Homo sapiens: one gene and its partners. The protein of the gene in region 1 interacts with the protein of each later gene in a pairwise test. Each region holds a gene or a part of one and is shown in the gene's direction. Other genes may lie near its edges.

Region 1 (3,500 bases):
ATAAACACTATGATGAACATCCTTGTACATACATTTTTGTGTACTTCCCCAATTATGCTTGTCTTGCTAGAATAAACTTCGAGTAGTTGAAGTATTGGGTCAGATAAATTTTTTTTTGTATTTTGTTGAGTATACTCTTTCTGAAGGATACGCCAGTACCCTGAGTACCCGATTTTATATAACCTTCCCAGTATTAGAATTAACACATTTTGAAACATCTTTTTGCCTATTGAACAGTTTATTATTTTCATTTATATATATTCTTGGGCATGTTTTCATATGTTTATTGACTTTATAAATTTCCTCTTTGGAGACTGATTCATATATTAACTGTTGCCCATTTCCTTATTTGCAGGTTAGTTTTCTTCTTACTGATTTTCAAGAACTACATTCGACTGTGTCAAATGTCTGTGATATTATAGATACTCCCAAGAGTGTTATTTGTCTCTTTTGGGTGGTGCCTTTTGCTACACAGAAATTGCTGTGTTTCATACAGTCTAATCTGTCAATCATTTCTTTATGACATTCAGTTTCTTGCCTTGTTAGAAAAACTTCTCCCATCCAAAGCTTAGCTGTATTTCTTTTAAGACTTGTCTGATTTTATTTTTTACATTGAAATGATTGTGCTTTTTGGATTTTACTTTGATGAGGAAAAGCACTTTGTAATCAAGATTCATGCCATTCTACATTTATTTTTGTTTTTATTTATTGATTTTTGCTGTTTTATACTGATTTTACTAGTGTCTCTCTTGCTTCTTCTAGGGGGTCTTTAAAGCTGTGTTCTTGGACATAGCCCACCCTTTCTTTGGTTTATTTTTTTAAATTTGTTGTGTGTGGTTTTCTGAGATTGGTTCCATCCTTGGGTAAAGCTTTTGGGCCTCAGTTTACTTGTGGCCTGTCATCCTCATGAGAGATACAATCATTTTTCTGCCTTTACACCTTACATCTCTTTCTTTTTTTGTATATTGAGGTTAGTGGATTGCCTGCTGTGATCTCATGTCTTGTCCCAAGCTTGCTTCCAGCAAAAATACTTCCCAGTTTCTTAGGTGACCTCAGATGGTGCCTTCTCCACCAGAGAATTCAGTTTACACAATCCTTTTTCTTTTTTTGAGACCAAGTCTCGCTCTGTTGCCCAGGCTGGAGTGCAGTGGCATGATCTCGGCTCACCACAACCTCCGCCTCCTGGGTTCAAGCGATTCTCCTGCCTCAGCCTCCCAAGTAGTTGGGAATAGAGGCACGTGCCACCATGCTCAGCTAATTTTTGTATTTTTAGTAGAGATGGGGTTTCACTGTGTTGGCCAGGCTGATCTCGAACTCCTGACCTCGTGATCGGCCCACCTCAGCCTCCCAGAGTGCTGGGATTACAGGCGTGAGCCACCGCGCCTGGCCAAGTTTACGCAGTTCTATAGTAGAAAACATACAAAGCTAACAGTGGCAGTTGTACATGGTTAGTAAGGAGATTGTCCCTATATCACATCTCCCAGGGTACTGAGTTCTGGTATATAATGTGTTTTCTAAATCAGTTATGTTTTTAAAAAATCATACCTTGTAAATGACTCGTGATTTCTCATACCCAGAACACGGTTGTTTTTAACAGGCCTTTTTAACGATTGTAGAATCACCTGTGTTCTTTGTAACAAACTCAAATAAGATAGAAGCACATGAATTAATTCCCTTCTTTTCTTGCCTCTAATTCAGAGCTCAAAGATGACCAGCCACAGTTACTTATCTTTCCAGACTTTTTTGTGCTTGTACAAATAGTTTTCTTATTCTTTTAAACAAAAGCAGTATCGTATTTTACAGGTTACAGAATTCTCTTCGTTTTACTGTGTCTTGCGGATGTGTCCCTTGGACCTGTCTATATACATAAGTCGTGCTTTCCTTCAAGTTCTCCTCTTCGTTAGCTTAGGAGAGCCAAGAAATAAAGACTTTCTTACAAATGACTGTTTGAGTTTGGCTGATGTGTCCTACAGAAACCTCACCATCTCTCTCTGTGTTCTCCCTACTCTCTTACGGGTCCTTACCTACTACCATGGCTTGGATTATTTTTGTGTATTCTCATGGCTTCCAACTGTTTTACATCTGCAGTGGTTAATTCTCTTGTCATCTTTACCTGAAGATCATAAAAATGCCTTTCTCCCTCTTACCCACCCTTTCTGTGTTACTCAATATTGTATTTTAACTCCCAAGCCTACAGTTTACCCTTGAACAACACACCAACACGGGGATTGGGGCTGTCTGCTGGGTGGCACCTGTGCAATGGTGACTGGGTTCTGGCTGTCACATGTGCAACAGTGTGTGTGCTGCAGCTGTCACCAGTGCAACAGTGGCTGTGTTCCAACTGTTCCCTGAAGTTTTAGCCAAGGTGATAGTCCGTTTTGTGTCACGTTTTGACCTGATTTATTTTTGCGATGATTTGGGATTGTGATTGGATACCATCCTTATGAATACTGTTTTCTTCTTTAAGGAAAGGGGGCTGTATACAGCTTTGATCCAGTAGGGTCTTACCAGAGAGACTCCTTCAAGGCTGGAGGCTCAGCAAGTGCCATGCTACAGCCCCTGCTTGACAACCAGGTAATGATACTGTGTCCAGGTAATGATACTATGTCCAACTTGTCATGGTGTTCAGTTGAAGTGCCTTCCTCCAAGTTCTCCTCTTCATTAGCTTAGGAGAGCCAAGATATAAAGACTTTCTTATAAATTACTGTTTGAGTTTGGCAGACGTGTCCTACAGAAACCTCATGGTCTCTCTCTGTGTTCTGCCTACTCTCTTGTGGGTCCTTACCTACTCCCATGGTTTTGATTGTTTTCCTGTATTCTCATGGCTTCCAACTCTTTTATGTCTGTAGTGGCTAATTCTCTTGCTGTCTTTACCTGAAGATCATAAAAATGCCTTTTTCCCTCTTACCCCCCCTTTCTGTGTTACCCAATACTGTACTTGAACTCCCAAGCATACAGTTGAGCCTTGAACAACACGGGGATTGGGGCGCCAGTTCCCCGAGCACTGGAAAATCCACATATAACTTTCGACTCCAAGAAAACTTACAAATAAGCCTACTGTTGACTGGAAGCCTTGCCAATAATGTAAACTGTGGATTATCACGTATTTTACATATGTATTATGTGCTGTATTCTTATGATAAATAAACTACAGGAAAGAGAATGTTATTAAGAAAATTATAGGAAGAGAAAATACATTTACAATACTGTATTTGTTGATACTGTAAGTTTACATCATCTGTTTACAAGGAGAATCATCTGTCTGGAGTGGTGGACAACCACAGCTGCAGACCTCAATCTACAGTACATATCAAGCAATTCAGCTTTTTCTTGTGATGTCATAACTTTCCCTGCTTCTTGGGGAGCAGTTCCAGCATCACTAATAGTGCTTTGTTTGGGCCACTTGTTATTTAAGGTTTATAATAATCGCACTAAACACAATGAAAAACAAAGGAGAACATTGAGAGATCACTTTAACTTTTTATAATCAGTTTATGTGT
Region 2 (3,027 bases), on another chromosome or scaffold:
TGATGTCAAATTAGTCACATTAAGCTATAGTAGAAGGAATTGGACACTTCTCCAGATATTTGGCTTCAAAGGAGTACCTTTACTTACATGTGCTTTATGGTAAGTACATTGAATTTTACTTTAAATGCATTTTACTACAAAGCACAATTCATTTGTAATGCATATCCATCTTGGATTCAATCCAAGGTGCTTTAGCTATCAGTAGTACCAAAGGATCTTTTTACAAGGCTTCCTGTGGTATTGACTCTGAGAATAACACATAGTGAAGATCTGTGGGCTTTTAAAATTGTTCACAGCCAATTTAAGAAGACCCCTCATGAAGTCTCAGTTTTCAGTACAGTACATCATTCCTCCTCACTAGGAGCACTTTGATGTAAACCAGAATAGCTTTAAAAAGACAAAAAGGATCGTAGATCTGATTTTTAAATGGTTGGTTGCTCTGACAGATCTGAACACTTTGCTTCATGACTATTTCGTCATAAAGGTATATGTTTAAAATCTGAATGGCAGTACTAGCTCTATACTTTTAATACTGCTTTGTATTTTATATGTAAAGTAGTATTGCTGACATTTTAAAAAAATACAAAATACAAAAGAAACCATTAGAAATTAATAACTGTGGCTCTTCCAGTTGAAATAGGAATTGGAGAGAAAGGATTAGAATATTTTAATTAGGGGAGTAGATTATTGTCCAAAGGCTTTTATTTAGAGAAACGGGTAATTAAAACAGCAGCTTTAGAATAGCTTCTTACTGAATATGCAAAAGAATAATTCCTTGTTATTTCCTAATTGATCCAAGTCTCATAAATTTAGCTTTTGTCATAATTCCTTACCGAAAACAACTGAAATTGAGAGTCATAAATACTGTGGGTTAGAATAAAAACCATTTGCCAAAGCAACACTCTACTTAGAAGCACATGTACATACATGGACCTCATTCAGAAGTCCATGTTGTAGCAGTTAGAATTTGAGTATCAGCCATTTCATTGTAGTAACAAAAATTGAATTGCATTTTGTGCTCAGTTGTTTATTGTAATTTTATTTTTGTTACATTAATATTAGTTAAGATATGGTCACTTGAATTTTTTGTATTTAAGAATTTTCTGTTTTAATGCATGTTATACTTTTATGTAGGATTCCAAACCTTCCCTCTAAATGGGATTTAACCCACATCTGCGAGATCAGCGTTATGCTAAGAGGAAATCACTGAGGCCATATCTTTTTACAATCTGAAAAAAAAGTAGTAAAAAGGTAGTTAAAAAAAAAAAAGGCCGGGTGGTGGCTCATACCTGTAATCCTAGCACTTTGGGAGGCCAAGGCAGGCAGATCACTTGAGGTCAGGGGTTCAAAACCAGCCTGGCCAAGATGGTGAAACCCCATCTCTGCTAAAAATACAAAAAAAAATTAGCCGGGCATGGTGGCACGTGCCTGTAATCCCAGCTACTTGGGAGACTGAGGCAGGAGAATTGCTTGAACCCGGGAGGCGGAGATTGCAGTGAGCCAAGATCACGCCGTTGCACTCCAGCCTGAGCAACAGAGCAAGACTCCATCTCAAAAAAACAAAACTACTTTCATTAATTACCCATTATTTATTTTAGTTACTTAATTTTGAGTTCATAAATGGCCACCCTAATGGAAAGTTTGGGTATGATCTTAGGTTTTATGGAGATGTTTTCAATAGAGATTATTTTTCCCTCACCCTATTTGTGAATATATAAATTAAAGTAAGACAATGGAGTAAGTAAGAGGGTAGATCCAAACACAGTATGTCTAAATTCTAGCACTCTACTGGCTGCTTAGAATACACCAAACCTGGAAGACCTTTCCAAGAGTAAAATCCCAGTCTGCCACTATCAAAATTGCCACAGTCACTTTTACTACTTGTGTTCATAGTAGACTCAGCACTTCTTTTTCACTGGACCTAGTATAACTGAGAAATAAATAACTGTGTGCAAAATATTGGTATCATTAAGGACCCAGAGCTGCCCATTTTCTCTTTGTTCTAATAGGGAAGCAATTACTGATAGAAATGTGAGATTAAAAATAGGGTCCTCCCTGCTGCTCCAAACAAATGCCTAAACACAGTATGTATCTCAGTCCTCTGTTCCCAGAGATTCCACCCTAGCCCAGGAAAGAACTGGCCTGTGTAAAGCAAAACCCAAGTCATCCCCCTCCAGAAATTTCTCTGGCAGCCAAGCCTGACCCTAAGGGTTCCACTTTGCTTTAAAAGCTAGGAGTGGCCTCTAGAGCCAGGAACACATTAATACAACAGTTCAACCTCAGCACCAAGTCAGGTACGAAGCGCTTGATACGTGGAATTTTTCTCTATATCAAGTTTAAATTTCTGGAAATAGACTTTGGTTGCTAATGACAATTACAGTTATACCATAGTCTGTAATTTGAGAAAAGGTGAAATGTATTTAATATATATTTAGTTTTAATAAAAAGATAAAATTATTACAGAAATAATTGAGAGAGAGAAAATCTATTATAATTTATTTGAAAAATAAAACATTTTATCCAGTAATGTGTTATGTGGTTTTATACATTGAGTTATTCAATAAAATGGGCAGAGAAAAATGAAGAGTACGTACGTAGAGGTTTTGCTCTAATTTCTCCTCCACCAATAACTCTAATATGGGGTCTGCAAGGTTAGATGACCCACGTAGCAGGCCAGCTTTCAGCACAATATGGACCTATCATAGAGCCCTTTTCTGCATTGGCCCTCACTCAAAACTGTCAGATATGATGTCACCCAGTATATAAAGGAGAGCAGCATTCCTAGGTGTGAAATATGCTGCCTTTAGAACCCAAAGAGGCCTGTCAGGCATTGTGCTTTCTTCTTCATAGTGGAACATACAGGTTGTAAATAACTTGTCTCTTACTTTAGAGGGGATGTCTTAGCATGCCGCAGATCACTGGATACTTCTCCCCCAAAATTTTACTGATGTTTATAGGCCCCTGAATTTCATAAGTTTTATCTCACCATCTGGAGCACATGTGCTTTATCAAGGCCTCCAATTAACT
Region 3 (3,500 bases), on another chromosome or scaffold:
GGTAAGGATGACAATAAGGGAAAAATAAGCATTCTTTTATCATAATAATAATTAACTTATTGTCAAACAGCTTCTTTATGCCAGTATCTGCACTAATAAACACATCAATATTGTCTCTGCTCCTTACAACAGTCCTACTCTATAGCCTACTCTATAGATAACATTAACCCTAACAGTTGATGAGAAAACTTAAGATCAGATAAGTTAAATGATTTGTTCAGAATCATATAGCTAGAAAAGTGGTAAGAATGACATTCATTCTCAGATCTGCCTAACTTCTAAAGGCACTTTCTACAAAACGACTGGTTTTCAAAGTGTGATTTGAGGACCTGCGGGTCCCTAAAGACCATTCATGGAATTTGTGAAGTCAGAATTACTTCCATAGCAATACTAAGACATTGACTGTCTTCATTTTCATTCTCTTGTTTGAGGGTACAATATAATTTTTCAAGAAGCTATATGCCATTTGATATCACAGTAGATTGAATGGAGAAGCAGAAATGAGAACCCAGCTGTCTTTTGTTAAACCAGATATTAGAGATATATAAAAATGTAAAACAGTACCATTCTTCTCACTTTTTAAAAAATTATTTTAGAAAATATGGGTTTTGGGTAAGATATTCCATGTTAATATGTAATTAGTCTTTTTTTGAATGAATTAACAAATGATTTAAATTTTGTTTTAGTTTTTACACAGTAAATATCAATAGATACTATTCACATAAAAATTATTTTGGCCATGGCTCACACCTGTATTCCCAGCACTTTAGGAGGCCAAGGTGGGTGGATCATGAGGTCAAGAGATCAAGATCATCCTTGCCAACAGGGTGAAACCCTGTCTCTACTAAAAATACAAAAGTTAGTTCAGCATGGTGGCGCGCGACTGTAGTCCCAGCTACTCAGGAGGCTGAGGCAAGAGAATCACTTGAACCTGGGAGGTGGAGGTTGCAGTGAGCTGAGATTGTGCCACTGCACACTAGCCTGGCAACAGAGAGAGACTGCATCTCAAAAAAAAAAAAAATTTTTGAGTCATTAATTATTTTTAAGAGAGCAAAGCATCGTGACACTAAAACGTTTGAGAACCACTGTATTAAACGATGAGGCTTGCTCTATCGTGTTCTTACTCAAATAAATCAATATACTTCAGCTTAATTAAATTTTAAAATATTCACACTTGCAGTCTTATTTGCCACTTTGTTAGAAAAAGATCAGGTTTCTAGAAAATGTTGTGGTCTTCTTACTCCCAGAATGGCCTTTAATATTTCATTTTTAAAAGCATTCTGGTTATTATGTCTGTCTTCATTTTTATTTGGCATAAAATGTCATCCTTTACATTGTCTTCCAGATAATTTGTAATTTCCCTTTTACTTTTCTCTTCAACTCAGAATTAAGATTTTTAAAATTCTATTTATTTCTAATTTTAGTGGATTACAATCACCAAATATAGCCTATTAATTCTCTGTTTAAAAACTTTTAAAGGATTTCATATGGTTCTTTTTCATTTAAGAAAATAAATTCTTTTTACAGAACAGTTGGACAAACTGTGAAAAGCCCAGATAAACTTCGTAAAGTGATCTATCGCAGAAAGAAAGTTCATCATCCCTTTCCAAATCCTTGTTACAGAAAAAAACAGTCCCCTGGAAGTGGGGGCTGTGACATGGCAAATAAAGAAAATGAACTGGCTTGTGCAGGCCACCTGCCTGAAAAATTACACCATGATAGTCGAACATATTTGGTTAACTCCAGTGATTCTGGTTCTTCACAGACAGAAAGCCCATCATCAAAATATAGTGGGTTTTTTTCTGAGGTAAGTCTTTTCTCTAACTCATATCTAGTTTAACTTTGTTCCTGTTATAATCTTGATTTTTTTCTTTGCCATATTCCACTAGCAGAATAATTTGTCACCTATTGAATGTAGACTTATTTGAGTCATAGTAACTCCCTGAGACAATTTTCTAGATTAACCAAATTTGAATTAATAATTTATTCCATTTCTCTAAGATGGGATGAAATGCTTAGCAGGCTGCTAAAACTATCCAGAATGACAAGTTAGCCAGTAGAGATTTAAAGGAAGGGAAAAGGAGAAATCTTGCCTAAAAAAGTGGAGCACTAGGCCGGACACAGTGGCTCACGCCTGGAGCCCGAGGTGGGTGGATCACGAGGTTAGGCGTTTGAGACCAGCCTGGCCAACATGGTGAAACCCTGCCTCTACTAAAAATACAAAAATTAGCCGGGCATGGTGGGGGGCGCCTGTAATCCCAGCTACTCAGAAGGAGGCTGAGACAGGAGAATCGCTTGAACCCGGGAGGCAGAAGTTGCAGTGAGTTGAGATCACACCATTGCACTCCAGCCTGGGCAACAGAGCGACTCCGTCTCAAAAAAATAAAAATAAAAAGGACAACATCTGCAGGCAGATCACCTGAGGTCGGGAGTTCGAGGCCAGCCTGGGCAACATGGTGAAACACCCTGTCTCTACAAAAGTACAAAAATGAGCCGGGCATGATGGTGGGTGCCTGTAATCCCAGCTGCTTGGGAGGCTGAGGCAGAAGAATCACTTGAACCTGGGAGGCAGAGGTTGCAGTGAGCCGCGATCATTCCATTGCACTCCAGCCTGGGCAAGAGAGCAAGACTCCATCTCAAAAAAAAAAAAAAAAGTGGACCACCGAAGCCAGTTATCCAGACACATTTTGCCGGGCTCTCAATATTGCCTGGTTAAAGCATAGTTCAGGCAAACCTGCTGTGGTTTGCTGCTCTTCTGGCTCAAGCAAAACTGGTTAACAGACTCAAAAGCGTTTTTGAGAGTGATAGAAATATTCTAAAACTGGGCCTGGCCAACATGGCGAAACCTCATCTCTACTAGAAATACAAAAATTAGCTAGGCATGGTGGCACACTTTGGGAGGCCAAGGCAGGTGGTCAGGAGTTCAAGACTCGCCTGGCCAACATGGCAAAACCCCATCTTTACCAAAAATACAAAAATTACCCAGGCGTGGTGGTGCACGCCTGTAATGCCAGCTACTTGGGAGGCTGACGCTCAAGAATTGCTTGAACCCGGGAGGCAAAGGTTGCAGTGAGCCAAGATCTTGTCACTGCACTCCAGCCTGGGTTACAGAGTGAGATTCTGTCTCAAAAAAAAAAAAAAAAAAAAAAAAAAAAAAAAAGTAGGCAAAGGACACAATAGACACTTTTCAAAAGAAGACATACATGTAGGTGACAAGCATATGAAAAAATGCTCAGCCTAAATGCTAAACCTAAAATCACTCATCATTAGAGAAATGCAAATCAAAACCACAACAGGATATCATCTCATACCAGTTAGAATGGCTATTATTAAAAAGTCAAAAAATAATAGATTCTGGCAAGGTTGTGGAAAAAGAACACTTATACAATGCTGGTGACAATGTAATTTAGTTTCAGCCATTGTGAAAGCAGTGCGACAATTTTTCAAAGAACTTAAAACAATCTTATTATTGGATATATACCCAAAGGAATATAAAACAT
Region 4 (3,500 bases), on another chromosome or scaffold:
CATAGAAGCTCAAACGTTAGCTCTATAAGGCAGAAATCTTTTGCATCTGTTGTTTTGTCTTTCTGTTCATCAGAATGGTACTGAGCACACAGAGGCCTCAATAATTTGGTTTTTTGCTGTTTTGTTTTGTTTTTGAGACTGAGTCTTGCTCTGTCACCCAAGCTGGCATGATCTCGGCTCGCTGTAACCTCCGCCTCACGGGTTCAAGCGATTCTCCTGCCTCAGCCTCCTGCGTAGCTGAGATTACAGGCGTGCACCACCACGCCCAGCCAATTTTTGTGTTTTTGGTAGAGACGGGGTAGAGACGGGGTTTTTAGTAGAGACGGGGTTTTGCCATGTTGACCAGGCTGGTCTTGAACTCCTGATCTCAACGATCTGCCCTCCTCAGCCTCCCAAAGTGCTGAGATTACAGGCGTGAGCCATGGCACCTGGCCAAGAGTCTGCCTTTCTTTCTTTTTTTTCTTTTTTTGGGTGAGCAACAAGGCTATTTATTTCACCTGGGTGCAGGCGGGTTGAGTCAGAAAAGAGAGTCAGCGCAGGGATTTAGGGGTGGGGCCGTTTTATAGGATTTGGGTAGGTAGTGGAAAATTACAGTTAAAGGGGGTTGTTCTCTGGTGGGGAGGGGTGGGGACATAAGGTGCTCAGTGGGGGAGCTTTTGAGCCAGGAGAAGGAATTTCACAAGGTAATGTCATCAGTTAAGGCAGGAACCGGCCATTTTTACTTCTTTTGTGATTCTTCAGTTACTTCAGGCCAGCTGGACATACATGTTTGCAGGTCACAGGGGATATGATGGCTTAGCTTGGGGTCAGAGACCTGACATTCCTGTCTTCTTATATTAGTAAGAAAAATAACATAAAATAGTGTTGAAGTGTTGGGGCAGCAAAAGTTTTGGCGGGATGGTATGGAGAGATAATGGGTGATGTTTCTCAGGGCTGCTTCGAGCGGGATTAGGGGCGGCGTGGGAACCTAGAGTGGGAGAGATTAAGCTGAAGGAAGATTTTGTGTGTCTGCTTTTCTAACAAGCTCTCTGGTGATGCTGACAGCCCTGGTCTTCAAACTGCACACCTTGAGTAATCAGCTATCAGTTCTAAAGCTAAAACAATGATTGGTACCTAGAGCTGACAGGGTTCTAGCCTCTGCCTGGTGGTGCAAGGAGCAGAGAGAGTTTGCTGGCAAATTCCTCCGGGAATGATCCCCCGCCACCGCAGTGTTGACGTCACTGCAGATATGCACTGCTCCTCCCTTGATGACCGTGTTCCCATTGTATTGGTCCTCCCGTGACTGGATGTGAACAAGAACCCCCTGGTGAAACACCAGCTAGAGTTTCAAGATCCTATATACGTATTTGGGCTGGGTCACCTTGGAACTGTTCTTTATTTGTTAGTCTTCTTTATTTGCTTTGGGTGTGACTAATCCCACAGAGCCCTGGGGCTTGCAGCCTTTTCCTGGGTAATTTGTAAACCGATGTGTCTTCCAGGAGACGTTTAATCTGCAAATCATTCTCTGCCTCAAAGGGCTTATTGTGTAAGAGCTACAGCTATCCAGGCCAGGAAGAGGCTCTGGAGAAGAAACAACATCCAAGGAGGTGGCGGAAGGGGCCTCTCCTCCCTCCTCCATCCCCGGATTCACTGCATGGCAATCCCGTGACAACAGGGGCTGAAAATGTCTACGTAACAAAAATATGTTCAAGCCACTTAGTTCATCTGTTAGAGCCAAACAGCAGGGAAGTGGTTTAAATGTTCCCTTGACATTCTTTGTAAAGGGATTTTACCCACGTACTTCAAGAGTGAATGACAGAGTTTAAGACTTTAATAGCCAGTCCTGACGCTGCCACTAAAAAGGAGAGGTTGTCCGGCTTCTGACACATAGCTGATATTTGTAGCTACTACCATCATCACCAACAATTATTGTGATTCTGCCCTCAAGAAACTAATCCCAGAAAATAAGTATGAGGTCTTCGGGGGGCGTGGAGAGGGCAGCTGGAAGCCCCTAGGTTTGAGTGTACAGCAGAGCCAAGTCAAGGGCAGGCACAGTTATGCTCTCTCTTCTCCTTCTCGCCCTCCTGTGTATCCGCTTATAGCTGTGTTTCCCTGTCTCCACAGGCACTGGGAGGATCTGGATGGATGACGTTGCCTGCAAGGGCACAGAGGAAACCATCTTCCGCTGCAGCTTCTCCAAATGGGGGGTGACAAACTGTGGACATGCCGAAGATGCCAGCGTGACATGCAACAGACACTGAAAGTGGGCAGAGCCCAAGTTCGGGGTCCTGCACAGAGCACCCTTCCTGCATCCCTGGGGTGGGGCACAGCTCGGGGCCACCCTGACCATGCCTCGACCACACCCCGTCCAGCATTCTCAGTCCTCACACCTGCATCCCAGGACCGTGGGGGCCGGTCGTCATTTCCCTCTTGAACATGTGCTCCGAAGTATAACTCTGGGACCTACTGCCCGTCTCTCTCTTCCACCAGGTTCCTGCATGAGGAGCCCTGATCAACTGGATCACCACTTTGCCCAGCCTCTGAACACCATGCACCAGGCCTCAATATCCCAGTTCCCTTTGGCCTTTTAGTTACAGGTGAATGCTGAGAATGTGTCAGAGACAAGTGCAGCAGCAGCGATGGTTGGTAGTATAGATCATTTACTCTTCAGACAATTCCCAAACCTCCATTAGTCCAAGAGTTTCTACATCTTCCTCCCCAGCAAGAGGCAACGTCAAGTGATGAATTTCCCCCCTTTACTCTGCCTCTGCTCCCCATTTGCTAGTTTGAGGAAGTGACATAGAGGAGAAGCCAGCTGTAGGGGCAAGAGGGAAATGCAAGTCACCTGCAGGAATCCAGCTAGATTTGGAGAAGGGAATGAAACTAACATTGAATGACTACCATGGCACGCTAAATAGTATCTTGGGTGCCAAATTCATGTATCCACTTAGCTGCATTGGTCCAGGGCATGTCAGTCTGGATACAGCCTTACCTCCAGGTAGCACTTAACTGGTCCATTCACCTAGACTGCAAGTAAGAAGACAAAATGACTGAGACCGTGTGCCCACCTGAACTTATTGTCTTTACTTGGCCTGAGCTAAAAGCTTGGGTGCAGGACCTGTGTAACTAGAAAGTTGCCTACTTCAGAACCTCCAGGGCGTGAGTGCAAGGTCAAACATGACTGGCTTCCAGGCCGACCATCAATGTAGGAGGAGAGCTGATGTGGAGGGTGACATGGGGGCTGCCCATGTTAAACCTGAGTCCAGTGCTCTGGCATTGGGCAGTCACGGTTAAAGCCAAGTCATGTGTGTCTCAGCTGTTTGGAGGTGATGATTTTGCATCTTCCAAGCCTCTTCAGGTGTGAATCTGTGGTCAGGAAAACACAAGTCCTAATGGAACCCTTAGGGGGGAAGGAAATGAAGATTCCCTATAACCTCTGGGGGTGGGGAGTAGGAATAAGGGGCCTTGGGCCTCCATAAATCTGCAATCTGCACCCTCCTCCTAGAGACAGGGAGATCGTG
Region 5 (3,500 bases), on another chromosome or scaffold:
GGCATGGTGTGCAAAGTCATTCCTAAGCCGGCCCCTGAAGCAGCTCTAGCACCTTCTTTCGCCACTGCCCTCGTGCATCCCCCCAACTCAGTCCTTCCCCAGCACTTGGCCATAGGAGAAAATGCTCCACCTGTCCTCTCCATACTCTTCCCCCTGCATGAAGTGTCTTTCTTTTCCACCTAACTGACTCCTGTTCATTTGTAAAGATTCCTCCTTATCCACTTCAGAAAGTCCTAGTCGGGGTGGAATCTGCATTCTGGGCTAAATGTCTTGCTCAAGGCAATCACCAAACCTGCATATCCTACACCGTAACATTTCACCCACTGCATCCTCAATATTCATTTTCCTACCTGTATCTCTCAATAGAGTGTGCATTCATTAAAGATAAGCACCATGCCTTGCTAAATACAGTTCTAAATAAAAATTGATAAATGGATAAATGAATACTCAAGAAAATCCCGTACTTGTCTCCGTAATTTCTCTAGAAATGACATCTGCTTTTTTCCTTAATAGCCTCTTATTTCATCCCAGATGTCTTCCCCAAACACAGTAACTCCTTCCAAATTCTCCCTTAATTTTTTTGCTCTTTATCACATCCATTCAGCACTTTATCTCATGTTCTGCTCTATCTTATTTATTATTTCATGCTTGTAACTTGTCTCCTCATCTGTACAATAAACTCTGTGTGGAAGAGTTATGATATCTTGAGATGCCTGGCCGGAAATGGACAGATTCTTGTATTAACAAGTTTGAAAACGACTGAAAAGTCAAAGTAAACTAAAAGATGCTTTTCTTTTTATTTTAGTATGAAACAACTGACAAACACCTTTCTCCTGATGGCCAGTATGTCCCCAGGATTATGTTTGTTGGTAAGCGGAAGTGACAGTGAGATAACTCGGAAACACATACTAGTGCTGCCATCCTCCTTCTCTCCTCCCCACTGTCCCTTGCCACGTTGCCATGGCCAATGTCATCACTAAGCTCTAGCAAGGAGCATGACATTCCTTTAAGTTCCGCAACATATTTTCTTTAGAAAATGTGAGCTTTTACCTATTTCCACACAACACTTTCTTTTCTCACATGCTAATTGTAACTTTTCATCTTCTGCTATAATACTTCTGAGAACAAAGCACCCTATTCACTATTTAAACATATTGATAAATTTCCTGAATACGAGAGGCCTGCAAATATTTATTTTTTAATCCAGCAAACTTTCACTTTGTGTGTTAGATTTTTCTGACATTTTTTATCATTATTTTTAAGAAAGTTAGGAATAAGGCTGGGTGGCTCACGCCTGTAATCCTAGCACTTTGGGAGGCCAAGGCCGGCAGATCACTTGAGGTCAGGAGCTCCAAACCAGCCTGGCCAACAAGGTGAAACCCCATCTCTACTAAAAAATACAAAAAAAAAATTAGCCAGGCGTGGTTGCAGGAGCCTGTAATCCCAGCTACCTGGGAGGCTGAGGCACAAGAATTGCTTGAACCCAAGAGGCAGAGGTTGCAGTGAGCCGAGATGGCACCACTGCACTCCAGCCTGGGCAACAGAGCGAGATTCTGTCTCAAAAAAAAAAAAGGAATATGAGGTGGGAAAAAGAAATGAAAGGAGCCACATGCTCCTTCCTGCCACTGGTACTTTTCATATGCTTTCCCCACTTCCTTCTCTGTCCCCCAATTTCACATCATTAACTCCCCAATCATCATTATTCATTGACCGAGTCAAATCCCTACTATGTGCTCTTGTAGTCATACTTTCCTCAGGTATAATTTTGCAGTTTGGGGGTGGTTATGTAATAAATATTTCCCACATTGGACTATAAGCCCCTATGGCAGGGACTGTACCTATTTCTGCTCACCATGATATTCCCAACGTGACCCTGCAGTAGGCTCTCCATCAATATGTGTTTAATTATTGAATGAATGTACTGAGTTTGGCTTTGTTCAAAGTCATACTGATTTAAGGACAATCCATAATGAAATCCATCACTTACAACAATTCATGCTAATCATATGATTCACCTGTGTAATTCATTAAAAGTTTACACTGAATGTACAAAGCAGGGAAAAGAAAAACAAGAAATAGAAAAAAAGGAAGAAGGCTGAACTAAAGCACTAATTTTATAGGTTTAGTTTTGTCAGAATTTAGGACATTTGGAATCCTAACATTAAAAGGGAATTTATAGATGTCTGTTCATACCTTGTACAGGAATTCTTTGTACAGCATCCCTGTGGAAGGGCATTTTAACCCACATTCAATTCCTTCAGTCCTAAGAACCAGCTCCAAGGCAGCTTGCTCTTCTAGCTCCGTAGTAGCCACCCTGACTACATGTTTGAATCACCTGGAGGATTTTAAAGATCAAGTTGCCCAGGCCACACCTCAAACCAATTAAATCAGAATCTCTGGGGGTGGGAGGCAGGCATCCATAGTGTTTACAGCTCTCCAGATGATTCCAATGTGCAGCCAGGTGAGCTGCTAGTTGGGTATTTAAAAAGCCCTTCTTAGGTTAATTTCTTACAAAGATTAGACCGTGTCTTTGTATCCTCTGCACCAAACAGAAGTATAGTTGGTCTTAAATCTGGTGAATAAATGTACATCTGCTTCTTGTAATTTATGTGTCTGGCCTTAGTCCAACATTCTGAAATGACAGATTGCCCACTCCAGTACCAGCGACAGACTTTGCAAACATGCAGATGGTTCTCACATGTCTTCCTTGTCTCATTTTCAGGGCACGTGTCCTAGGTTCTTTCGATTACGTCTCTCAAGGCAAGGTTTCCAGATCTCTCTGTATCCTCACGCTTCCCTTTTGGATGCACCTTAATTTTAAAATACCTCTTTTTCTCATTAATTAGATCACTTCAAGTTAAATACAAAACATGGCAAGATGGATTTAAATTTAGAGGGATATAAGTATACATAAGAGAAGACCAATCTCTACTTTTAAAAATGCAGTTAATTAACAATAAAGTAAAATATAGTGAAGGTACTATATGCTTATTTGAACTTTGCTGTTGTTAAGGACTTGCATTCCTCTATTAACTTTTTTTAAAAAACTCGTTTTGAAAACTAGCATTGGATGTGGGTTTCCAATGATCTAGAAACATGTAAACTACAACATAATCGTTTCAAGAATTTAAAATAATTTTGCAGTAGAGAATGTTAATGTTTTCACCAAAAAAAAAAAAAACACCATGTCACCCCTAAATATATATTATTCTGTTTTCAGGTTGCCATAGATAGAACAGAAGGGTTCATAACCTTTTCCACAAATAGCACTGCACAGCTGTTGATGTTTCCAGCCCTGCATTTGCTACTAACTGCCAGGGGCTGGGTAGTAGAGTGGATGGATCAGAGCTCCTGTGAGTGCAGACACACTCCATTCCCTCACAGGACATGAATACATGAACTTCAGCTCCCCGGGGCAATAAATACAGGTTGTTTGAAAACAAACCATTCCATTCCCTTTTGCTTCATTTATCTTTGCAGACCCATCTCTGACAGTTAGA
Region 6 (3,500 bases), on another chromosome or scaffold:
GATTTGATGACTTTCTGTAGTGATACGCTTTGATTTCTTTCTCTTTTCTCCATAATATAGGTTCTTGCTTTGTGGCTACTATGAAGCTTAAAACATCCTGTAGTTTTAATAGTCTGTTTTAAGCTGTTAACAGCTTAGCTTTGATTGCATACAAACAATTTATACTCTTCCATTTCCCACATTTTATGTTTTTGATGTCACAATTTACATCTTTCTATATTGTATATTAACAAATTATTATAACTTTTTAATATTTTTATCTTTTAATCTTTTACACTAGAGATAAGTTATTTAGATACCACTGTTACAGTATTAGGGTAATCTGGATTGAGTATATAATTACCTTTACCCCAGTGGGTTTTATAATTTCATATGGTTTCATGTTACTAAGTGTCCTTTCTTTTAAGCTGAAGAATTTACTATTTCCTATAAATCAGCTCCATTACTGATGAAGCCCCTCATCTTTTGTTTGTCCAAGGAAGTTTTTATCTCTCCTTCATTTCTGAAGGCCATTTTTGGCAGGTAAAACATTCTTGGTTGGCAGTACAGTCATGCACTGTGTAAAGACATTTTGGTCAGTGATGGTCCACATATGTGACAGTGCTCTCATAACATTTTAATAGTGCTAAAAAATTCCAATCACCTAATGACATAGCCAGTGTAACATTGTAAAGCACATTACTCACATGTCTGTCATTTAAACCTGCTGCACTGCCAGTCATGTAACAGTAGTAAATATGGTTATGTACAGTAGATTATATACAGTACATAATAATGAATAGTAATAAGTGACCACATTACTGGTTTATATATTTTTATACTATTTATTGTTATTTTAGAATGTATTCCTTCTACTTACTAAAAAAGAAAAGTTAACTCAAAAACAAGCCTCAAGCAGATGCTTCAGAAGACATTCTAGAAGTCATTGTCACCATAGGAGATGTCAGCTCCGTGCATGTTATTGCCCCTGAATACCTTAAGTGGGACACGGTAGAAGGTGTCAGACAGTGATACTCAAGATCCTAACCCTATTTAGGCCTAGATTAATGCGTATGTGTCTTCGTTTACAACAAAAAAGTTTAAAAAGTAAAATCGGGCAGGCAAAAAGGGCCTGGAAGGTAGGCTACTGAGTTAAGAAGACAGAGTCCTAGCTCTGCTATAAGATTTGCAGCACTAGATTTTGATACATATACAGCTAAGTGTACTAAATGTTGTTCTGGAATGTCACCCTTTTATTATGAAATGCAAATATGCTCACCTTTATGGTCCTTATGAGTTACTCCTTATTGTTCTAAGTAATTTCGGGATATTAACTCAGCCCAACCCTATGAAATTGGTCCCATTCTAACAATGAGGAACGTGAGGGTGTGATATAAGATATTCCAAACTCATCTTGAAGATTTCTTAGTCTATACTAGACTCAGCTATTTCTCCAGTGAGTCCTGGTTTCTGTCACGGGTAAATGATATTCAGAGACAGTTTTGCACTTTAGAGGCTCATTCCTCCTGAGCTGTTAGCAGTCATAAGCCTTTTTAGTGGTTCAGGCTAGAAAAAAGTCCAAGAAAAAATGAAAAATGCATACTATATTTCTAATTTGAGGATATACTGTGTTCTTGGATAAGGAGGCAAATTGTAACTACACTCTATGTGTATGTTGTTACCCTTTAGTAAGAAGAAGCTTCCCAGCCTGCTAGTGTTGAACATCTAGCAGGCCTAGACTCTAATGGCTTCTGTGTTCTCCTCTAGCTCTGCCTGCTTAGGACTCTGCCCAGCCAGGAAGGAAACCTACAGGAGGAAGAATGGCTGCAGGGTGGCTGACAACCTGGTCACAGGTACACAAGAAATTTCTCTATTTCCAAAAGCACACTGCCATTCCTGAAAAGAACACATCTCTTGCCCCTGACCTGAAGCTTCACAGCCCAATCTGAGCTGGCTTCATCTTCCGCAGCTCCCAGGCTGCTTCATGTGGAAGAGGGAATCCCTGGGAAAGGCTTCTGTTCCCACATTTGTTAACTTTCTCCAGATATTCTTCCATATTTTTGAGTATGAATTCCATACTGTAGTGAGTGCTGTAAAGAAAGACTTTTACTAGGAAAATTATTTATCATTTCTCAAGTATTTCTTGCATTCCTACAGTATGCCCTGTCTATACTGGATCTGAATAAGACGAAAAGAGTCCTCACAACCTAACTGTGCAAAGATCAAGCCAACCATATTTTAGAAAAGCTGTTTTGACCATGACCCTGAATGAGATGGCCCAGGGAGTAGGATTTAAAGAGAGTTCTGAGAACTCAGCTTTAAGGCAAATTAAGAGAAGGCCTCTGATGCATGTCTGAGCTTCCAGTGCCCTGAGTCTCCTCTCCAGTCCTGTCAGCCTCACCCACCATTCTCCTGGTACATTGTCAAAAATGGTCATTGGCTGAGCCAGAATATGTATGTGATGTTTTAGAACTCAGTAACCTTCCAGGAAGTGGCAGTGGACTTTTCCCAGGAGGAGTGGGCATTGCTGGACCCTGCTCAAAAAAATCTATACAAAGATGTGATGCTGGAGAACTTTAGGAACCTGGCCTCAGTAGGTAAGGCTGGCCTCATTTCTTCATTTGTTTATGTAGCAAATAGTTCTTAAGCACATATTATGTTCCAGAATCTGTGGAAAGAATAGCAATACAGTGGTTAACCCCAAAATGAATGGTCCCTGCCCTTGAGGGGGCAGTCCAGTGGCTTCCCATGAAAATGCACTGATTTCATTTTCTCTATCACTAATAGCTTAAGGTAATTTGCAATCTGTGTCTCATCTTGTGTATAGGTTTCAAGGGTCACTTCCATATAGGGCGTGGACCATGCTTTTTGGTTCTTGTGAAAGAAAGAGCTCGGCTCTGATTGTTTTGTTGTTCCTAAAGCTGCACTTGACTATTTTAATAATCCTTTAGTTAAAGCCAAAGTATGGCAATCAGTTTTGTGGAATATTTAATTCTCACACATTTCTCCCACATCCTTGCTTTCTGCGTGAGCAGGGTATCAGCTCTGCAGACACAGTCTGATCTCCAAGGTGGATCAAGAACAGCTGAAGACAGATGAAAGAGGAATTTTACAAGGTGACTGTGCAGGTGAGCCTTGGGCAGAACAGGGTGCAGCCTTGGCCAGTGAGGGTTAGTACATTTGGGAATGTCACTCAGTGAAGGAAAAGAAATCTGAGGCCATGACATGAGCTTCCTTCCTGTTTCACCATCTATTCAATCGTTCATACGTTCATTTGGTCTCCGAGAAAGAAGTTTTAATTCCTCTTTAAATGTAATGTCTCCATGAATGCTTTTTGCCAGATAATACTGTCTTATTTCCCAACCTCCACAATCCTTTCTAACTAAAATACCTCCCATTTCTACTGCTTGTTCCTATCACTGGTGAATCACTGGTTGTGTCTTCTTTCTTACATTTCTCTACTTAGAAGATATTATTTGAAAACAAATCCATAGGGTCTCCCTCCCTTTTTCTTTGATCCC
Region 7 (3,500 bases), on another chromosome or scaffold:
ATAGGATTTTATAAAGGCCCAAGACTTAAGTAACTTAGAAAACACTGTCGCTGCCTTAAAGAGTGAGTTTCAGAAGACACTTAATGACAAGACAGAAAACCAGAAGTCACTGGAGGAGAATCTGGCGACAGCCAAGCACGATCTACTCAGGGTTCAGGAGCAGCTGCACATGGCTGAAAAGGTCAGAAGACCATGTTTAAGGGATTTGTCTGTTAATGCATGATTAATGCACACAGTATAGAGGAATACATGTGGCTAAGATAAACGTTGGACAACTGCAAATTCAGATTATTTTTTCTCAAGGTATTAGCCAATATGTTCTAAAGATTAATCATTTCCGGGCACTGATATTCTTCCATCTTTGGTACTAAAATATCTGTGATAATAAGACATCTCCTCTCCCTCTATGGTGTAGTGAAATGCTCCTCTGTAGGTGGCTTGAATCCTGCCCTACATCCCACCATGTTGCTCTTCTGCTCCTTCTTCCCACAGCCTGCAGAGGGATGAGGGACTGTTTTTTTTAAGGACTTCTATACTTTTGTCATAATTTATATAAAATATGTAGAGAGCTAGATTCTTCACTTTGGGGATTAGACTCTTAAGAATATGGGAGTTGAGGCCGGGTGCAGTGGCTTGTGCCTGTAATCCCAGCACTTTGGGAGGCCAAGATGGCAGGATTGCTTGAGCCCAGGAGTTCAAGACCAGCCTGGCCAACATAGCAAGACCCCCATCTCTATAAAAAAATTAAAAATTTTTTCATATAAAAAATGGGAAAAAAGAATATGGGAGCTAAAATTTAACTAAATTAAAAATCATTTTGCTAAAATACACTACTATGGGACTTGGGAAAAAAGTGTGCTTATTTTACAGGAAAATTAGTTTAATATTTCAAATAGATTTATCATATCCAGGGCTTGAGTTATTTACCAACACTGTACTTGGGAAAATGTTACTATTTTATGGCTTCTCATTTGAAAGAATATATTTTTAAAGTTTGGATAGTCTTAGTTTTATATAAATGTGTCCTTTAAGGAAATTAGAAAATCATTAGCAAAATACTAGTAAAATTCAAGCAAAAAAAACTACATATTTTTATCGCATTTGTTATCTCTTTCCTTAACTATTTTTTTAGTAATGGGCTGACATTTTTTACTAAGCAGGAATTAGAAAAGAAATTTCAGCAAACAGCAGCTTATCGAAACATGAAAGAGATTCTTACCAAGAAGAATGACCAAATCAAAGATCTGAGGAAAAGACTGGCACAGTAAGCCACACTGATCCCGCCTTTGGATTTCTCTCTCTGGATTGATGTTTGTTCTCTGTTAAATCTAAGCTTGTTCCAGAGAGGTCAAGCCGGTGGTAGTTGCTGGATCATTTAGTCCAGAAGCCTTCATTTGAGGAAAGTGGAGGAGCTCTGGCCTGACCTTATCTATAATGCCCACCAGGGCTTCTTTTTAGGTTCATCTAGGCCTTTAGACTCACACAGGCCTACAGTAAGCTGCTCTTGGCAATGGATTCACTTAGCAGGATGTCAGACAGGAAACACAGCAAGCTCGCAGGGCAGCATTAGGTAGTTCTCTTCTCCTTGGTGGTATACTCTAAGCAGTCCAAGAACTGGTCTTACTGTTCCCCTAAATGACAGTTTAAGTTGGAGAGAATGAGATTCATGCAGATGGGTGTCATAGCCAGCTTGGCTTAGAAGTCCGTGTTCTACATAGGATTAGTATCTCTCTTAGCAGTCACATGATACCCAGTTAAGGGTATGTCCAGTTAAAAGAACTCATCGCACAGGGGGAAACCTAAAGTGGTGGCTCCCACCATGTATTTATAGTTCATTCATAGTCCTCCAGGTCCAGATGTGGTCATCAGATGTTTTGCCTGGAAACTGAGTTGACATTTTACCTTTATCAGAGTTCCAGGGGAGCAGAGCTAGAAAGGGAATTCAAGGTGAGATTTGTCCTTAGAGAAGTAGATTTGCTAGCCCTTTACTCATATAGTCGTATCAACTGTTCTTGTCAACATGATGATTGAGGTAATTATATGAAGTTATCACAGGTCTAAATGCCAAATATACAGACTTGGAGCCTTAGCAGTGATCTGGCCTATCCTCCTACCTGATGTAAAAATCCCCTCTGAGTCACCATCAAAACAAAGTTGAATGTGTCCAACTTCTACCGTAACAGTAATTTGAAGTGAGAAATATAGTGCCACTGCTTCAAGTAAACTTATTTGGTAATAACAACAACAAAAGGTATCCTGACATTGTGTTCTTAATTTATATCTCCAGATATGAACCTGAAGATTAAAACTGAAGATTTCCTCTGGAAGCTACCACATGCAAACATACAAGCAGTCTCACCTCAGGCATGTATTTTGAAAAGCATTTTGTCATATCCCCTCTCCTTATTTTTCTAATATTTAGACTTTGAATATTTAGAACTAGAGTTCCTATTTTCAGCTAGTTGAAAACAGAGAAAACCTAGTGATTCTGTCTGGTCATCCCACACACCTCTCTACTGAGTGCTCCAGAGTCTTAGCTCACATGCACTGAGAATTCTTTACAGCAAAGAAGAGATTTTTAGAGTGGGAAGAAGAGGCTTATCCTTCTGCATTAGTATAAAGAGTCTGTATTTTTAATAAATGTTAAATAAGCTAACAATGTTTGTACTTATGCATTCCCCATGGGTAAAAATAAATAATAGCATTGTTAAAGATAGTTATTACCAAAAAAAGAGAGTTATTACAAATAAATATGTCTCTTTATTTTTAAAAATGAAATCTTAATTCATTTACTCTATTTGATGATAAACTATAAATTCATTGAAAATGTGAATTCTATTATGGGTAGCCTTTTTACCAATTATAAGGAAAATTTACAGCAGTGAACATGAACATTCACTTAGCTTCCTCAGTCTCTCCATCTTAAAGATCATTTATCAGAGGAGGTTCAGCATTTTTTGCAGCATAACTTTTCATGAGTCTGTATTACTAATGGATAAGTCAAATCCATCCTGCACTTCTACAGTTTAGAAAGTATCTGGACTCAGAATAAATGTAATATTTATACTTGTTTCCAGAATGTTATTTTACATTTTATGTTCAATAAGAACACTTTTTAAAAGACGTATATTCAACATAAAATCAGCTATCAGACTTCAGATTAGACTTTATTTATGTGGGTCTATAATAATTGTATTTTCAAGAGGTTTTCACTATATTTGTATTGGCCTGGTTTTCTCAGACGATTTTGGACAAATCATTAGAAACTGGGCATCATATCCACAGTTATGTAAGGCAGTGATATACTATAAGGATAAACAAAGTCAAGTCCATAAAGCAATAATCCCTCAGAAGGAAAGTCCTTACTTTTCACATATTAATATTTAGTAATTTTTCCTGCTTCTAAAAGTGAGAGTATCACACCCTAAATGAACACTGTCTACTAAGAGACATCATTCCATTTCCACAAATGAAGATTTTATTCCAAGAAACGAGTTTAC

Evidence for each region.
Region 2: the proteins of PSMB1 (region 1) and THAP6 interact in binary tests that used the Homo sapiens proteins (3 or more experiments, as listed by UniProt).
Region 3: the proteins of PSMB1 (region 1) and KATNBL1 interact in binary tests that used the Homo sapiens proteins (3 or more experiments, as listed by UniProt).
Region 4: the proteins of PSMB1 (region 1) and SCARA5 interact in binary tests that used the Homo sapiens proteins (3 or more experiments, as listed by UniProt).
Region 5: the proteins of PSMB1 (region 1) and AGR2 interact in binary tests that used the Homo sapiens proteins (3 or more experiments, as listed by UniProt).
Region 6: the proteins of PSMB1 (region 1) and ZNF177 interact in binary tests that used the Homo sapiens proteins (3 or more experiments, as listed by UniProt).
Region 7: the proteins of PSMB1 (region 1) and LZTFL1 interact in binary tests that used the Homo sapiens proteins (3 or more experiments, as listed by UniProt).

The regions. Positions count from the first base shown.
Region 1 is NC_000006.12:170,536,308-170,539,807, reverse strand, and holds part of PSMB1 (proteasome subunit beta type-1), read left to right. Parts: intron 1-2,467; coding exon 2,468-2,574; intron 2,575-3,500. UniProt on the Homo sapiens protein: Non-catalytic component of the 20S core proteasome complex involved in the proteolytic degradation of most intracellular proteins. This complex plays numerous essential roles within the cell by associating with different regulatory particles.
Region 2 is NC_000004.12:75,527,500-75,530,526, forward strand, and holds the end of THAP6 (THAP domain-containing protein 6), read left to right. Parts: 3' UTR 1-2,527; downstream 2,528-3,027.
Region 3 is NC_000015.10:34,151,097-34,154,596, reverse strand, and holds part of KATNBL1 (KATNB1-like protein 1), read left to right. Parts: intron 1-1,527; coding exon 1,528-1,807; intron 1,808-3,500.
Region 4 is NC_000008.11:27,870,674-27,874,173, reverse strand, and holds part of SCARA5 (scavenger receptor class A member 5), read left to right. Parts: intron 1-2,103; coding exon 2,104-2,240; 3' UTR 2,241-3,500. UniProt on the Homo sapiens protein: Ferritin receptor that mediates non-transferrin-dependent delivery of iron. Mediates cellular uptake of ferritin-bound iron by stimulating ferritin endocytosis from the cell surface with consequent iron delivery within the cell.
Region 5 is NC_000007.14:16,795,000-16,798,499, reverse strand, and holds part of AGR2 (anterior gradient protein 2 homolog precursor), read left to right. Parts: intron 1-805; coding exon 806-869; intron 870-3,480; coding exon 3,481-3,500. UniProt on the Homo sapiens protein: Required for MUC2 post-transcriptional synthesis and secretion. May play a role in the production of mucus by intestinal cells. Proto-oncogene that may play a role in cell migration, cell differentiation and cell growth. Promotes cell adhesion.
Region 6 is NC_000019.10:9,376,513-9,380,012, forward strand, and holds part of ZNF177 (zinc finger protein 177), read left to right. Parts: intron 1-1,746; 5' UTR 1,747-1,799; coding exon 1,800-1,832; intron 1,833-2,449; coding exon 2,450-2,576; intron 2,577-3,014; coding exon 3,015-3,107; intron 3,108-3,500. Other genes in the region: ZNF559-ZNF177 (zinc finger protein 177), read left to right, coding at 1,800-1,832, 2,450-2,576, 3,015-3,107. UniProt on the Homo sapiens protein: May be involved in transcriptional regulation.
Region 7 is NC_000003.12:45,825,120-45,828,619, reverse strand, and holds part of LZTFL1 (leucine zipper transcription factor-like protein 1), read left to right. Parts: intron 1-4; coding exon 5-181; intron 182-1,160; coding exon 1,161-1,264; intron 1,265-2,287; coding exon 2,288-2,306; 3' UTR 2,307-3,500. UniProt on the Homo sapiens protein: Regulates ciliary localization of the BBSome complex. Together with the BBSome complex, controls SMO ciliary trafficking and contributes to the sonic hedgehog (SHH) pathway regulation. May play a role in neurite outgrowth. May have tumor suppressor function.